Regions from separate parts of the Homo sapiens genome. Here region 2 is linked to region 1. A link means that fine-mapping ties the variant in region 1 to the expression of a gene that starts in the linked region. Tissue or cell type: whole blood. Region 1 holds a variant in brackets; the other region holds the start of a gene. All regions are shown on one strand. Distances are from middle to middle.

Region 1 (8,099 bases):
TCAGACCCTGCCCCCTAGGAGTTGGTAGCTCATGGGGGAACAAAATGGCTCTCCTATGGAGAGTTAATTACTTAACAATATAACGAATAAGCTGGTCCAGGTGGGAAGGACTTTAGGCGCTCAGGGAAGGGAAGAGTCACCGTGCCTGAAGCAGTCAGGGTGGACCAAACGGAAGACGTGAGACGAGATAAGTGATGGTCATATGGCCAGGGAGGAAGGGGACGTGTGTCAATCTGGGGGACAGCTTGAACAAGAATGTGGAGGCAGGATGGACACCCTGGGAATAGGTATTCTAGAGGCCCAGCCTTGGGTGGAGTGGAGGTCTTGGCTGCTGTGCCCCTGGCTTGAAGTCCACTGTCCAGCCCGTGCCCACTCCCCAGGTGGTGTGTCCGGTGGTCTACTGCAGCATTGTGTACTGGATGACGGGCCAGCCCGCTGAGACCAGCCGCTTCCTGCTCTTCTCAGCCCTGGCCACCGCCACCGCCTTGGTGGCCCAATCTTTGGGGCTGCTGATCGGAGCTGCTTCCAACTCCCTACAGGTGGGAGGGCTGGCAGTTGGGAATTCCCAAGGCGGGATGAGGTCTTGTGGGAGGAAGCAGGGCCTGGTGCAAGGGTTAGGGTGGAGCTCTAGGAAACCTGGGTTTGTCCTGGTCACCCCTATGATGGCCTGGCCCCCTCCCTTCCCCTCTAGGTGGCCACTTTTGTGGGCCCAGTTACCGCCATCCCTGTCCTCTTGTTCTCCGGCTTCTTTGTCAGCTTCAAGACCATCCCCACTTACCTGCAATGGAGCTCCTATCTCTCCTATGTCAGGTCAGTACCCCTGCCCTCCTCGTTGGCCTCTGCTCCTCCCTGGAGGAGTCCATACCCAGGGCTTCCTGGGTTGTGCCAAGTCTGCTGCCTGCCCCATTATCCTTTGGGCAGGGGCACCCTGGCTGCACCCCAGGGATGACAGCATTGCAGCTGGGCTCTGGCAGTTTTCTCAGAGAGCAGGGACCCTGTGTGCTGTATCCCATCTGATATCCCTGCCTGCCTAGGTATGGCTTTGAGGGTGTGATCCTGACGATCTATGGCATGGAGCGAGGAGACCTGACATGTTTAGAGGAACGCTGCCCGTTCCGGGAGCCACAGAGCATCCTCCGAGCGCTGGATGTGGAGGATGCCAAGCTCTACATGGACTTCCTGGTCTTGGGCATCTTCTTCCTAGCCCTGCGGCTGCTGGCCTACCTTGTGCTGCGTTACCGGGTCAAGTCAGAGAGATAGAGGCTTGCCCCAGCCTGTACCCCAGCCCCTGCAGCAGGAAGCCCCCAGTCCCAGCCCTTTGGGACTGTTTTAACCTTATAGACTTGGGCACTGGTTCCTGGCGGGGCTATCCTCTCCTCCCTTGGCTCCTCCACAGGCTGGCTGTCGGACTGCGCTCCCAGCCTGGGCTCTGGGAGTGGGGGCTCCAGCCCTCCCCACTATGCCCAGGAGTCTTCCCAAGTTGATGCGGTTTGTAGCTTCCTCCCTACTCTCTCCAACACCTGCATGCAAAGACTACTGGGAGGCTGCTGCCTCCTTCCTGCCCATGGCACCCTCCTCTGCTGTCTGCCTGGGAGCCCTAGGCTCTCTAGGGCCCCACTTACAACTGACCAAAGTGGCCCCCTCTGGGGGTCCCCACCACACAAGTGTTTGTAAACTGGGCTGCTATAAGGTTGGAGTTCCAGGGCTGGGCCCTGGTGGAGTCCACTGGAAGTCCCATTATGGATGTTGAAATGGACAGGGAAGGACTCTGGAAGTCTCTTCCTCCTCCTCCTCTTCTCTCCACCCCTAGACCCTGGCTGACTTGGACAATCTGCCAGGACAGAAGCTGGGTTTTCTGTCTAGGTCACCACTCCCAATCCTGGGGATTGGAGAGGCCTGGGGCTGTGGGATGCCCCATCCCCCTCCCCATCACCTTTGGTGGGGGCAGGGCCTGGTGGCACCTGTGCAATAATGTCTGTGTTTCTCTCCCACCTGCCACTGGAACTGGAGAATGCACTTTATTCTGGGCGGGGGGTGAGTGGGGGAAGACCCAACCCTCCTTTCTCGCTGCCCCTAACGCATGCACGGTCTCGTGATGCTCCCTCCCTCTCCGGAGTGACAGGCACATACATGAGAACAGGCCATCTCAGCCCTACACACTTGCCATCCCCTACAGCACAGAGGAAGAGTGATGGTGGCATGCTGGTGGTGGCGGGTGCTGGTGGGAGGACAGTGCCAACCTCCTCCTGGGGATCCCATGTTGGAGACTCTAAGGATAAGGCTGGTGCTGCCCAGGGTGTCTACAGGAACTGCAGGTGTCTACCCCCAAGTCTTCCCTCCTCCCAAGCCAGGGGTGGCACAGGGCACTAGATCCCTGGAGTTCAGGAACCAACACAAGCACAACCACGGGCATAAGTTGGCCTTGGCCACTGCCACCCACGGCCCTCCTTTTGTGCTCCATGCTGGCATCTTCACTCCCCTACCCCTTCCCCAGCCACTGCTGCTCATTCAAACTTCTGTCCATGTCCCTCCACTGTTCCTATCAGCAGGTGGCCCCTGGGCATCAGAACAGCCTGCCCTGGGCACCAGGTGGCAGACACACTCAGAGCATGTCTGGCTTTCCTGGTGGGTCCAGGCTCATTCTGCTTCTGATTTCCCCTCCCCCAGGGCTCATTTTCCCCCTTTTTCCTGTACACATCCCTGTCTACCTCCTCTCACCCTGCCACAGATTCTTCCTATCACACAGGGATGCCAGTTGTATTTGTGGGATTTCACCCATTATTAATAAAACCTATATTTATACAGTATGCAATGTGTAAATGTGTGTGGATCTGCCACCTGGTACTGTGCCCTGCAAGGGGGCCTTCAAAGCATTTGGCATGAGGCCTGTCAGCTGTAGGGAGTCTGTGGCAGGGGATGGTAGGTCCCAGGTACATGTCAAGCTAGTGAACATGTAGCTTAAGAAATATTTGTGTCACCGGGCATGGTGGCTCACGCCTGTAATCCCAGCACTTCGGGAGGCCGAGGCGGGCGAATCACGAGGTCAGGAGATCGAGACAATCTTGGCTAACACGATGAAACCCC[A/G]TCTCTACTAAAAATACAAAAAATTAGCCGGGCGTGGTGGCGGGTGCCTGTAGTCCCAGCTACTCGGGAGGCTGAGGCAGGAAAATGGCATGAACCCGGGAGGCGGAGGTTGCAGTGAGCCGAGATCGTGCCACTGCACTCCAGCCTGGGCGACAGAGCGAGACTCCGTCTCAAAAAAAAAAAAAAAAAAAAAAGAAATATTTGCATCATGCTGTCCATCTCACAGAGGCTTCACATTCATTATCTCAAGGGAGTCTCATGCTGACCCTGCACCATCCTTCATGACAACCCGTTTTGTAGATGAGAGAACTGAGACTTGGGTTAAGTAACCTACCCAAGGGCCCTCAACGAATGGAGGAGGAGCCAGGCCTGGAGACCAGGTCTTCTGCCTCCAAAGTCCTCTTTCTTGGCATCGGTCAATGGCACTTGTTCATGGTGGACCCACATGCTGTGTGGGGGAGCTGCGTGTCTGTTGTATGAGTGAGTTCTTGCCCAAATGATGCCTGCCTCTGTCTTCAGGACTCACTGAGCCCTGGGTGTGCCTGCAGGGGTGGGGTGTGTTAATGGTTATGGAGGGCAGTGAGAAGCAGGAAAGACCCTGGAGCCCCATCCCTAGGATGGGAGTGGCGGGGGCCTCGCTGGGCTTACTCGCCTTTCCCCTTGGCTTCTCCTCTCTTCCCACCCAGCCACCCTTACTGGGGCTGAACTGTCAGCCACCAGGAATACAAATGGGTCTGGTGGCTGGGGGTTTGGAGCAGGCAAGTGTCCAGAAGTTCTTGAGGACTGGGGGCAGGACAACCCAAGAAGCAGCGCACTGCCTCACCCTCTTCTCTCCTGGGCCTGAGGCTTGGGGACTGAAGGAAATGACTGGCATCAACCTGCCAGCTGCCTGGAACACCCTAGTTGTGCCACATGTAGACTTAAGTGACCCAAACTAAACTAGGGTCCAAGTTATGAGTGGTTGGGTGCTCACCTGGAGGTGAATGACTTTTTTTTTTTTTCTTATGGAGGTTTGTGATGGGAGTGGAAAGCATGAAGAAGTCTGAGTTCAAGCTCCTGGAATTCTAGTTAGATTTAGAGGGCATTCTGGGTGCCTCCTTCTCCCTGGAGTGATGCCAACAGATGGCTTTTGACGTATCAAAGGGCATGAAATCCCACCATTAAAGCATCTGTCTTAAGATTCTTATTTTACTCTCTCTCTCTTTTTTATTTAAAGACAGGGTCTCACTCTGTCACCTGGGCTGTAGTGCAGTGGTACAAACATAGCTCATTGCAGCTTGAACTCCTGGGCTCAAGGGATCCTCCTCCCTCAGCCTCCTGAGTAGCTGGGATGATAGGTGTATGTCACTATGCCCAGATAATTTTTAATTTTTTTTTTTTTTTGAGACAGAGTTTCACTTTTGTTGCCAGGGCTTGAGTGCAATGGCGCGATCTCGGCTCACTGCAACCTCCGCCTCCCAGGTTCAAGCGACTGTCCTCCCTCAGCCTCCGGAGTAGCTGGGATTACAGGCATGCACTACCACGCCCAGCTAATTTTGTATTTTTAGTAGAGACGGGGTTTCTCCATGTTGGTCAGGCTGCTCTTGAACTCCTAACCTCAGGCCTAATTTTTAAATTTTTTAAAATGTAGAGATGGGGTCTCATCACGTTGCCCAGGCTGGTCTCCAACTCCTGGGCTGAAACGTTCCTCTCAGCTCAGCTTCCGAAAGTGTTAGTATTACAGGCATGAGCCACCATGCCCGGCCCTCTTTCTCTTTTTAAAACGTAAATACTAGGGCATGGCATGGTAGCTCACATCTGTAATTCCAGGACTTTGGGAGGCCAGCCTGGGCAACACAGTGAGGCCCCATCACTACAGCTCTCTATAAAAACAAACAAACAAACAAACAAACAAACAATTAGCTGGGCATGGTGGCAATGCTTGTAGTCCTAGTTACTTGGGAGGCTGAGGTGAGAGGATCACTTGAGCCCAGGAGTTTGAGATTACAGTGAGCTATGATTGTGCCACTGCACCCCAGCCTGGGTGATAGAGTGACACCCTGTTAAAAAAAAAATCCAGTAAATACTTTTTTTTTTTTTTTGAGATGGAGTCTCTCTCTGTCGCCCAGGCTGGAGTGCAGTGGTACCATCTCGGCTCGCTGCAAGCAAGCTCTGCCTCCTGGGTTCACGACATTCTCCTGCCTCAGCCTCCCAAGTAGCTGGGACTAGAGGTGCCTGCCACTACGCCTGGCTAATTTTTTTGTATTTTTAGTAGAGACGGGGTTTCACCGTGTTAGCCAGGATGGTCTCAATCTCCGGACCTCGTGATCCACCCGTCTCGGCCTCCCAAAGTGCTGGGATTACAGACATGAGCCACCACTCCCGGCGAGATACTGTACTCTTGCCACTGTGCCCTACCCCATGTTCCTCCCACCAGTCCCAGTAACCTGCTGAGTTGGAGCATAAATGCTCCCTGCCCATCTAAGTATGTTTTGAAGTGGGCCCTCTCTCCCTAAGTGCCAAAGTACCTAAGTACCTGGGCTTACAGATCATCTTTTTTTTTTTCTTTTTTGAGACGGAGTCTCACTCTGTAGCCCAAGCTGGAGTGCAGTGGCGTGATCTCGGCTCACTGCAACCTTCGCCTCTGGGGCTCAAGCAATTCTCCTGCCTCAGCCTCCCAAGTAGCTGGGACTAGAGGCGTGCGCCACCACACCTGGTTAATTTTTTTTGTATTTTTAGTAGAGGCGGGGTTTCACCATGTAGCCCTGATGATCTCGAACTCCTGAGCTCAGGCAATCCACCCACACTGGCCTCCCAAAGTGCTGGGATTACAGGCGTGAGCCACCACGCCCATCTGATATCATCTTCTTTAACACAGTCACCTTCTCTGTGTCCAGACCTATGCAAAGTGCTGAAGACCAGAGTTGACTAAGACAGTTGTCCATGCAATAATTCTTTTTTTTTGAGACAGGGTCTCGCTCTGTCACCCATGCTAGAGTACAGGGTGCAACCATGGCTTACTGCAGCCTCAACTTCCTGGGCTCAAGCGATCCTCCCATCTCAGACTCTAGAGTAGCTGGGACCGCAGGTGCGTGCCACCATGCCTAGCTAATTTTTTAAAAATTATTTTTGTGGAGTCAGGGTTCTATTATGTTGCCCAAGCTGGTCTCAAACTCCTGGGCTCGAGTGATCCTTCTGCCTTAGCCTCCCAAAGTGCTGGGATTACAGGTGTGAGCAACCACACCCCGGCCTCATGCTATAACTTTTTTTTTTTTTTTTAGACAGAGTCTCACTCTGTAGCCAAGGCTGGAGTGTGTAGTGGCATGATCGCGGCTCACTGCAACCTCTGCCTCCTGGGTTCAAGCGATTCTCCTGCCTCAGCCTCCTGAGTAGCTGGGACTACAGGTGCCTGCCACCAAGCCTGGCTAATTTTTTTGTATTTCTAGTAGAGACGGGGTTTCACCACGTTGGTCAGGCTGGTCTCGAACTACTGACCTCAGGTGATCCACCCACCTCGGCCTCCCAAAGTGCTGGGATTATAGGGTGAGCCACTGCACCGCATCCTAGGTCAGACAACAGAGGACATGCCCACGGCATGACTCACAGTACTTCTGTCTGCAAGAGGCCAGTCAAAGTATATGTTATTAATAAAACCTACATGGTTGTCGTACCCATGGGGAAGGTGACAGGGGAGGAAAACAGATTGCTCTGAGCTGTGTCCAGGAACTGCTGCCAGGTGACTGTCTTGCATGGCTAGGTAAGTGGAATGAAGCTAGAGGAGATTACCAGGCCCAAACTGTCACCCATGAGACTACATTCATGGGGTTCCTATACTTCCCCTCCCACATCCTATTCTACTCCCCTTGAAGAACCTCTTTTAAAATGCAAATGTGTTGTTCACCCTGCTGCTGGGATGCCCTGCCTTTCCTTTCTCTGATTTATTTATTTATTGAGACAGGGTCTCTCTCTGTTGCCCAGGTTGGAGTGCAGTGGTGCAATCTTGGCTCACTGCAACCTCCGCCTCCCAGGTTCAAGCAATTCTCCTGCTTCAGTCTCCTGAGTAGCTGTGATTATGGGCATGTGCCACCATGCCCAGCTAATTTTTTGTGCTTTTGTTTTTATTTTTGAGACACGGTTTTGCTTTATCTCCCAGGCTAGAGTGCAGTGGCATGATCTCGGCTCACTGCAACCTCTACCTCCCAAGTTCAAGCAATTCTTGTGCCTCAGCCTTCTGAGTAGCTGGTACTACAGGCCCATGCCACCACGTCTGGTTGATTTTTTTTTTTTTTTTGATACAGAGTCTTGCTCTGTCTCCCAGGCTGGAATGCAGTGGCGTGATCTTGGCTCACGGCAACCTCCGCCTCCTGGATTCAAGCGATTCTCCTGCCTAAGCCTCCTGTGTAGCTGGGACTGCAGGCATGCACCACCCAGCCCGGCTAATTTTTGTATTTTTAGTAGAGATGAGGTTTCACCACGTTGCCTAGGTTGGTCGTGAACTTCTGAGCTCAGGCAATCCGCCTGCCTTGGCCTCCCAAAGTGCTAGGATTACAGGCATGAGCCACCATGCCTGGCCAATTTTTGTTATTTTTAGTAGAGACGGGGGTTTCACCATGTTGGCCATGGTGACGAGTTTGAGCTGGTCCCAAACTCCTGGCCTCAGGAGATCTGCCCTCACCCCCAGCCTTCCAAAGTGCTGAGATTACAGGTGTGAGCCACCGCGGCTGGTCCTCTGATTTATTTTTTCAGATCCAGTACAAATGTTACCTCCTCTGCACTCCCTTTTCCAGACTCTCCTAATGCCTTGCCTCTGCCACTGAAGTACATCATTTGTTTGTCTGTTTTTTATATTTTTATTTTCTATTTTCATTTTAAATAGAGACAGGGTCTCACTATGTCACCCAGGCTGGTCTCAAACTCCTGGTCTCAAGTGATCCTCCTGCCTCGGCCTTGAAGTACATCATTTGTAAATGTGGTAGTTGATTCCATTAAAGTGAGGTGCCTGCCTTGCTGTGGTTGGCAGCCCAGGGCCTAGTGCT
Region 2 (8,099 bases), 32 kb after region 1:
CTGTAATCCTAGCACTTTGGGAGGCCGAGGAGGGCGGATTACCTGAGGTCAGGAGTCCGAAACGAGCCCGGCCAACATAGGTGAATCTCCATCTCTACTAAAAATACAAAAATTAGCCAGGCATGGTGGCGCACACCTGTAATCCCAGCTACTCGGGAGACTGAGGCAGGAGAATTGCTTGAACGTAGGAGGTGGAGGTTGCAGTGAGCCGAGATTTGCCATTGCACTCCAGAATGAGCGACCAGAGTGAAACTCCGTCTCAAAACAAAAAACAAAAAACAAAAAAATCCCCAAAACAACAACAGCAAAAACAAAAACAATTGAGTCATTGATTGACTTGGAATTTGAGGTAAAGCAAAGATTAGGAAAGGAACCCAGAGTCTGAATGGCAGATAAGCAGCTCCTGGCCATCTATAGCTAAACCGAAGGCCTTTTTTTTTTTTTTTTTAGTTGGAATCTTACTCTGTTGCCGAGGCTGGAGTGCAGTGGTGCGATCTCGGCTCACTGCAGCCTCCGCCTCCTGGGTTCAAGTGATTCTCCTGACTCAGCCTCCCAAGTAGCTGAGATTACAGGCACACGCCACCATGCTCAGCTAATTTTTGTAATTTTAGTAGAGATGGCATTTCACCATACTGGCCAGGCTGGTCTCAAACTCCTGGCCTCAAGCAATTCTCTTGCCTTGGCCTCCCAAAGTGCTGGGATTACAGGGGTGAGCCACCGCACCCGGTTGAAGGCATTTTTAAGGTATGAAAACTTTGAGACCAAAATTGTGAAAGAGCTCATGTGTCATGCTGAGATATTTCAACATTATTTTGTAAGCAAGAGACAAGAGAAGCAAAGGCTTCCTGGTTTTTAAAAATATTTTTGCTTATTAGGAGTGTTTATTCATTTATTTGGTGAACAGTTATTTAGGATCTACCAGATGCTAGGTCTTGAAGATACAGAAGTAAATAAGTCAAACATTTCCCCTTAGTTTCATTGTAGAAATCAGCTAAACTAAAAGGGAATATGTTTTGCTCACAAGAGACATGGCAGTGGTGGGGAGTTAGGGCTGGACTTGAGAGGAGGAAATGGGGTGTGAGGCCTACATCTTCTTTTTTATTTTTATTTATTTTTTTGAGACAGAGTCTTGCTCTGTTGCCCAGGCTGGAGTGCAATGGCGTGATCTCGGCTCACTGCAACCTCTGCCTCCTGGGTTCAAGCGATTCTCCTGCTTCAGCCTCCCGAGTAGCTGGGATTACAGGTGTGCGCCACCACATCCGGCTAATTTTTATATTTTTAGTAGAGACGGGGTTTTGCCATTTGGCCAGGCTGTTCCTGGACTCCTGACCTCAGGTGATCCGCCCGCCTTGGCCTCCCAAAGTGCTGGGATTACAGGCCTGAGCCACCGCGCCTGGAGCCTCTTCTTTACTTACAGCAGAGATTTTTGGTATCCCGAACCCTCTGCTGCAGTCCTCAGTGGTGGAGGGTCAGCGAAAGTGGGGAAAGTGATCCAAGAGCCCAGACGGCAGCTTTCTGGAGCAGAGACTTTGAAGTCTACCCCTTCATGCTGGCCCTTGCTGCAACTCTTGGAGAGAAGGGGCTTGGAGGGTGGGGAAACCTACCTAGCTGCCCCCGAAGGCCTTTGACTTCTTCCTCCAGCTGCTTGCTGCGGGTTTGCATATCCTCCTGCAGGGCATGGCACTGGCGACTCATCTCTGGGGTGGGGGCAGTGGGCCACCAGGGACCCAGGTTGGAGATGGAGGGATGGAGAAAGGAAATGAAGTTGTGGGTGGGGAAGACTCTACTTGGTCTAGTGGAACAGGAGCACAAAGGCCTTCTTGGTTCTTTTTGTGATTCTGAGAAGCTGCAGACCATGAAAACCTGAGGAAGGGACAGGAAGCCCGACCTACCTCCCCCAGTCCAGCTTTGGATGGGGATGCTAGCCCTTCTCCCCGCCCATGGGCTGATTGAGATGATGGCTATGACTGCATGTGTATCCTACACAGCATCAAGCACATGGCACCAGGCATCCTGGAAGGCCCCTGCCTGGGATCCCAGGAACCTACCTGCCTTTGGTTCCTGCAGGATCCTTCCTGATTTGTACTGTTTGGGAAAGACCAAGACCAGGCCTGGCAGTCGGAAGCCCTCCTTGTTTCCCTTCCTTGCATCAACTGACCCTGTTGGTTGTCCTCCTCCAAGCCCCTGTCTCCTGCCCACCTGCTTAACCGACCACACACCTGCATATATGGCCTTCCCTTCACTTCGGGCCCCTTCCAGCTCAGCCTCCACCCCTTGCAGCCTCTGCCTCAGCTGGTCTTCGGAAGCCTTGGCTCGACGGGCTTCATCCCTCCGTAGAGCTGTGAGCAGTCCCAGAGCCGCCGTCAGGACTGGCTGGGTCCCACTAAATCAGCCCCCATGAACGTGATGGACTTTGCCCACCTCTAGAAATCTGGTGGTGGGGTGTCCAGCCTCTTACTCTCTCTCTGGGTTTTGTTGTTTTTGTTTTTTATCCCTAGAGTCTCACAGGCTCCTCATTATTAAGAAGTAAAAACTCCCTCTATGTTCTTTTCGGATAGCCTGGCATGGTGGCTCATGCCTGTAATCCCAATATTTTGGGAGGCTTAGGTGGGAGAATTGCTTGAGGCCAGGAGTTTGAGACCTGCCTGGGCAACAGAGTGAGACCTTGTCTCTATAAAATAAATAGGGCCAGGCGCGGTGGCTCACGCCTGTAATCCCAGCACTTCGGGAGGCCAAGGCTGGTGGGACACAAGGTCAAGAGTTCGAGACCAGCCTGGCCAACATGGTGAAAACCCGTCTCTACTAAGAATACAAAAATTAGCCAGGTGTGGTGGCCACGTGCCTGTAATCCCAGCTACTCGGGAGGCTGAGGCAGGAGAATCGCTTGAACCTGGGAGGCAGAGGTTGCAGTGAGCCGAGATCACACCACTGCACTCCAGCCTGGGCGACAGAGCACAAGACTCTGTCTCAAAAAAAAAAAAAAAAAAAAAAAAAAAAAATAAATAAATAAAGTAGCCAGGCATGGTGGTGTGCACCTGTAATACCAGCTACTCGGGAGGCTGAGGCGGGAAGATTGTTGCGGCCCAGGAGTTAGAGATTACAGTGGACTATGACCATACCACTGCACTCCAGCCCGGGCAATAGAGCAAAATTCTGTCAAAAAAACCAAAAAAAACAAAAAACAAACAAACAAAAAAAACACCTTCCTTTATCAACTCTCACTGCCCACCCTCTCTCATCATCTTTTTCCACTAGGGGATGGTTAGGGTCAACTTAACCCCCCACCATACCTCCAACTCTCCAATCCCCCAGGATACAGAAATGCCCCATTTCACTTCCCCTGTTGCCCACCCATGCCAGCTTCTACCCTCCTTACCCAAGTGGTCTCGGAGCAGCTCCTTCTCCAGCACCACCAGCCTGTGCCTGGACTCGGCCACCACATCTGCACCTGCGGTGGCAAGTGGCAGAGCCTCAGCTCTTCATGATCTCAGCATTCCTCACTCTGCTCACATCCTCACCCCACACCCTGCACTTTTGCCACAGCAGACCTGAGGACCACTAAATGAGGTATCCACAGTGGCAGAGTCTACTGAAGTCAGCACCGTGTCCTCACCGACCAGCACATAACAGATATGCAAAATACACATGACAAATATATTAGGAAGGCACAGAGCTAGATGGGGCTTAAAGGAGAGCGTGGGTGACCATTTCCCCACTTCCTCAGCTCCCTGGATCTGGCTGTGAGGACATGAAAGAGGTAGGTCAAGAGAGCTCCATCCTGTCCTGCAGAAGGCTGAATTCTCTCTGGAGGAGCTCTGCGTGGTCTTCATGGCAGAACATGGAGAAGCAGGGGGCACCTCCACCCACCATGACTCACCCCAGTTCTTTTTCTTCTTCTGTGCCCCAGATTTCTTCCCTTTTTCTTTGTTTTTAGGTGGCATCTCCTTGCTGTCCTGGGAGAAGGAGGGGACCTTATGTTTAGGTCTGGACACAGGGATGCTTTCCTGAGCTTTAGACTGAACCAGGAGACTCTCCTGAGTCCAAATTTGTCTCTCATATCCTTCAGAAAAGTCAGTTCACAGTCTCTTTGGAACCTCAGACAGGGTTGGGGTCAGTGGGGAGGATGGAGTTTTTTCTCTCAACCAGGCTGACTCTGTACAGAAGTCATTCCTTGCAACTCTCTTTTAGAGAAACGAAATCCCTGTACCTGCTCCCCTCCCTCTTCCCATCATCCTCAACCCTCACTTCCTACCTGTAGGATCCTCTCCTGCCAGCGTTGGGGCTCCCCGTGGAGTGACCCACTCGTGGGGAGTGGCAGAGAGAAGGCCCAACTAGCGAGGAGCCTGAGGCGGGGCCTGGGTCCTGGGAGCCAATCCTTGGTGGCAAATTTCTCTTGAGGGCAGGACTGAGGGCTGGAAGGTTGGGTTTCCAGAGGCTGTATGTTGTCCAGGCAACTGGGAAACATGGAGTTCACAGGAAGGTGGAATGGGCTAAATCAGCTCACAAAGTTTAAAATATCAAGGTCTCAAAGGGTCAGTTCTTTCCTTATCCCAAAATCCTAAGTATAGTTTGAAAAGAAAGGGCTTTGGAGGTCGATTAGTTATGATTCATTGCCATGTAGACATGGCCTGCAATTTGGAGACTTCCAAATTCAGATGTACACATCTGAGATAATATGTGGTGCTGATACAGAGGAAAAGGACTGACAGTAGCCATGTTGGACAACTGACATCCCGAGGTCCCACCAGCAAAATGACATTAGTAGGCTTAAAACTGAAGATCTAAGCTGGGGCGGTGGCTCGTGCCTATAATCCCAGCATTTTGAGAAGCTGAGGCAGGAGGATTACTTGAGGCCAGGAGTTCGAGACCAGCCTGGACAACACAGTGAGACCTCATTTCTACAAAAAAATTAAAAAATTAGCCTGGTGTGGTGGTGCACACCTGTAGTCTCAGCTACTTGGGAGGCTGAAGCAGGAGAATCACTTGAGCCTGGGAGGTTGAGGCAGCAGTGAGCTATGATTGCACCACTGCACTCCAGCCTGGATGACAGAGGGAGACCCTGTCTCAAACAAACAAAACTCCCAGACCACCGAAGATCCTCTTCAGTACACTGTAGAATGAGGGTAATAAGTGCAGGAATAGGTAGTCCAGGGAGTTTCCCACTTCAGAGAAATGAGACGCAGAGGAATAGTGGACCCATGGACTCTAGGGTACTGACCTAGAGGGATGCAAGTGTGGAGGAAAGAGCTCAGGTTAGAGACAAGACATGTGAGTTTGAGTCCCAACTGTGGATATGTAAACTGAGGCGAGCCATTTGACTTTGCTCAGCATCAGTTTCCTGATCTTTAATTGTTTGATTTTGCAGCTCTTGAAAAGCCTGTGTTTTAGCTGCGTGTTTACATGGCTATCTTCTCTCCTAGTGACTTAATCTATTGCTACATTTCCCCATTCCCTTGTGTGGTTGATTTTCAGACAGGTGTTGAGACATTGCTTTGTGAGGCTCCCTGTAGCATAGAGTTGGTTGGGGCTCCCTCTAGTGGACTTGTTTGACCTTCTCCTGAGTTTCCTACATTTTTGCTTTTAAATTATTTACTGGGCAACAGTGGGGGTGACTCCCTTTGGGGATACTTCTTAGCGTCCTGTTTGAGCCAGGAGTGGCTGGAAGAATTAACATTGGGGAGAGAGTATGATGGGTGGCCCTCCCTTGTCAGGCAGCCCTCACTTTCCCTCCAGCTCTGTGCTATCCTGGAGGCTTGCCATTTATCTGCCACTTGGATCTCTGGGCACCATACTGGTTAGAGTGAAAATAGCAAAAACTTCAGGACTTTTCTCCTTTTGGATTAGGGGACCTGCAGACCCTTTCTTTTCTTTAGGTTTCTTTTTTTTTTTCCCGTGTCTCTCTCTGTCACCTAGGCTGGAGTGCGGTGGCATGATCACGGCTCACTACAGCCTCAGTCTCCCTGGGCTCTGGTGATCTTCCCACCTCAACTTCCTGAGTAGCTGGGACTACAGGCGCATGCCACCACACCTGGCCAATTTTTGTATTTTTTGTAGAGATGGGGTTTTACCATGTTGTCCAGCATGGTCTCAAACTCCTGGCCTCAAGCGATCCACCTGCCTTGGCCTCCCAAGGTTCTTGGATTACAGGCGTGAGCCACTGCACCAGCCTATCTTTTTTTTTTTTTTTCTTCAGACAGAGTCTCGCTCTTGTTGCCCAGGCTGGAGTACAGTGACGTGATCTCGGCTCACTGCAACCTCCACCTCCCAGGTTCAAGCAATTCTCTGCCTCAGCCTCCCAAGTAGCTGGGAATACAGGTGCCCACCACCACGCCTGGCTAATTTTTGTATTTTTAGTAGAGATGGGGGTTCACCATCTTGGCCAGGCTGGTCTTGAACTCCTGACCTCGTGATCCACCCGCCTTAGCCTCCCAAAGTGCTGGGATTACAGGCGCGAGCCACTGTGCCCGGCCTTCTTTAGGTACTTCTCTTCATCTCTGTCACCCTCAATATTTTTGGTCCATTGCCTATTGTCAGGAGCAGATCTGTAGAAATAGCCACAAGAGGCTGGGCGCGGTGACTCACGTCTGTAATCCCAGCACTTTGGGAGGCTGAGGCAGGCAGATCATGAGGTCAGGAGTTCGAGACCAGCCTGGCCAACATTATTAAACCCTGTCTCTACTAAAAAATACAAAAATTAGCTGGGCATGGTGGCACGTGCCTATAATCCCAGCTACTGGGGAGGCTGAGGCAGCAGAATCGCTTGAACCCAGGAGGAGGAGGTTGCAGTAAACAGAGATTGCGCCACTGCACTTCAGCCTGGGCAGCAGAGCAAGACTCCATCTCAAAAAAAAAAAAAAAAGCCACAAGATCTGGAATTGAAAAGTCCTTCTTCTGGGTAGTGGGTAACTTTAGGCAGAGGCTGGTTCATGCTTGTCACCTTGGTGGCTGCACGGCACTTACATGAACTTCCGGGCATTTTACAGAGCAAAGAGAAGAGCCAGTCTTGACTTCCCAAGTGCTTCCAGCTCCTGTAACTCAGAGTCAACTAATCTTGTGGACATCTCCCAAATCTGGAGGATATTTTTCTTCTAATCTTTTATTTATTTATTTTTGAAGCCAGTGGAATTTAGTAGTGGGCGCCTGTATACCAACTTTAGTGACTATAAACCAAAAATAAAATTCTAAGCCTGCCAGCCATCTGAGTGGACCCCTCCTCTAGGCCAAGGGCTTTCCAAAGTGAACCTGAAGAACTAGTTCAGGCCGTGATGGGAAGGGGGAGCCGGACATGCCTCAACATACCCTCCTCCCTTTTAGAATTACTGATAGAACACACTCTTTAAATCTGATAAGAAACATTTACAGGCCTGGTGGCTCATGCCTGTAATTTCAGCACTTTGGGAGGCTGAGGCGGGCAGATCATTTGAGGCCAGAAGGTTGAGACCAGCCTGGGCAATGTGGTGAAACCCCATCTACACAAAAAATACAAAAGTTAGCCCAGTTTGGTGGTGTGCATATGTAGTCCCAGCTACTTGGGAGGCGGAGGTGGGAGGATCACCTGAGCCTGGGAAGGTTGAGGTTGCAGTGAGCCATGATCACGTGACTGCACTCCAGTCTGGGAAATGCAGTGGCACCCTGTCTCAAAAAATAAAAAGAGAAAAGATAAGAAGAAAAAACATTTACAATCAATTCTCTCTGAGGCCTGCTACCTGGACGCTTCATCTACATGATAAAACCTTGGTCTCTTGCCGGGCACGGTGGCTCACTCCTGTAATCCCAACACTTTGGGAGGCCAAGGCAGGTGGATTCACCTGAGGTCAGGAGTTTGAGACCAGCCTGCCCAACGTGGCGAAACCCTGTCTCTACTAAAAATACAAAAAATTAGCCGGGTGTGGAGGCGGGTGCCTGTAATCCCAGCTACTTTGGAGGCTGAGGCAGGAGAATCGCTTGAACCCGGGAGGTGGAGGTTGTGGTGAGCCGAGATTGCGCCACTGCACTCCAGCCTGGGCAACAAGAGCAAAACTCTGTCAAAAAAACAAAAACAAAAACAAAAAACCCTTGGTCTCTGCAACCCCTTATTGTAACCCAGACATTCCTTTCTA

Evidence for each region. PIP is the estimated chance that this variant, and not a neighbour inherited with it, causes the effect.
Region 2: DRC12 starts here. The variant in region 1 is fine-mapped to the expression of DRC12 in whole blood (TOPMed, PIP 0.97).

Annotation. Positions count from the first base shown.
Region 1 is chr11:119,159,847-119,167,945 of GRCh38, forward strand. ABCG4 (ATP binding cassette subfamily G member 4) reads left to right here. Exons shown (of 15, transcript NM_022169.5): 13 at 381-539; 14 at 692-810; 15 at 1,035-2,807. The coding sequence ends at 1,260. Among named protein-coding and RNA genes, the nearest start is that of NLRX1, 4.8 kb to the right of the region's middle. The variant A/G (reference allele first, on the strand shown) is at 3,085.
Region 2 is chr11:119,191,547-119,199,645 of GRCh38, forward strand. DRC12 (dynein regulatory complex subunit 12 homolog) reads right to left here and starts at 4,295. Exons shown (of 7, transcript NM_001145018.3): 1 at 4,253-4,295; 2 at 3,878-3,953; 3 at 3,377-3,448; 4 at 2,220-2,339; 5 at 1,605-1,697. The coding sequence starts at 3,941. RefSeq lists an enhancer at 1-48.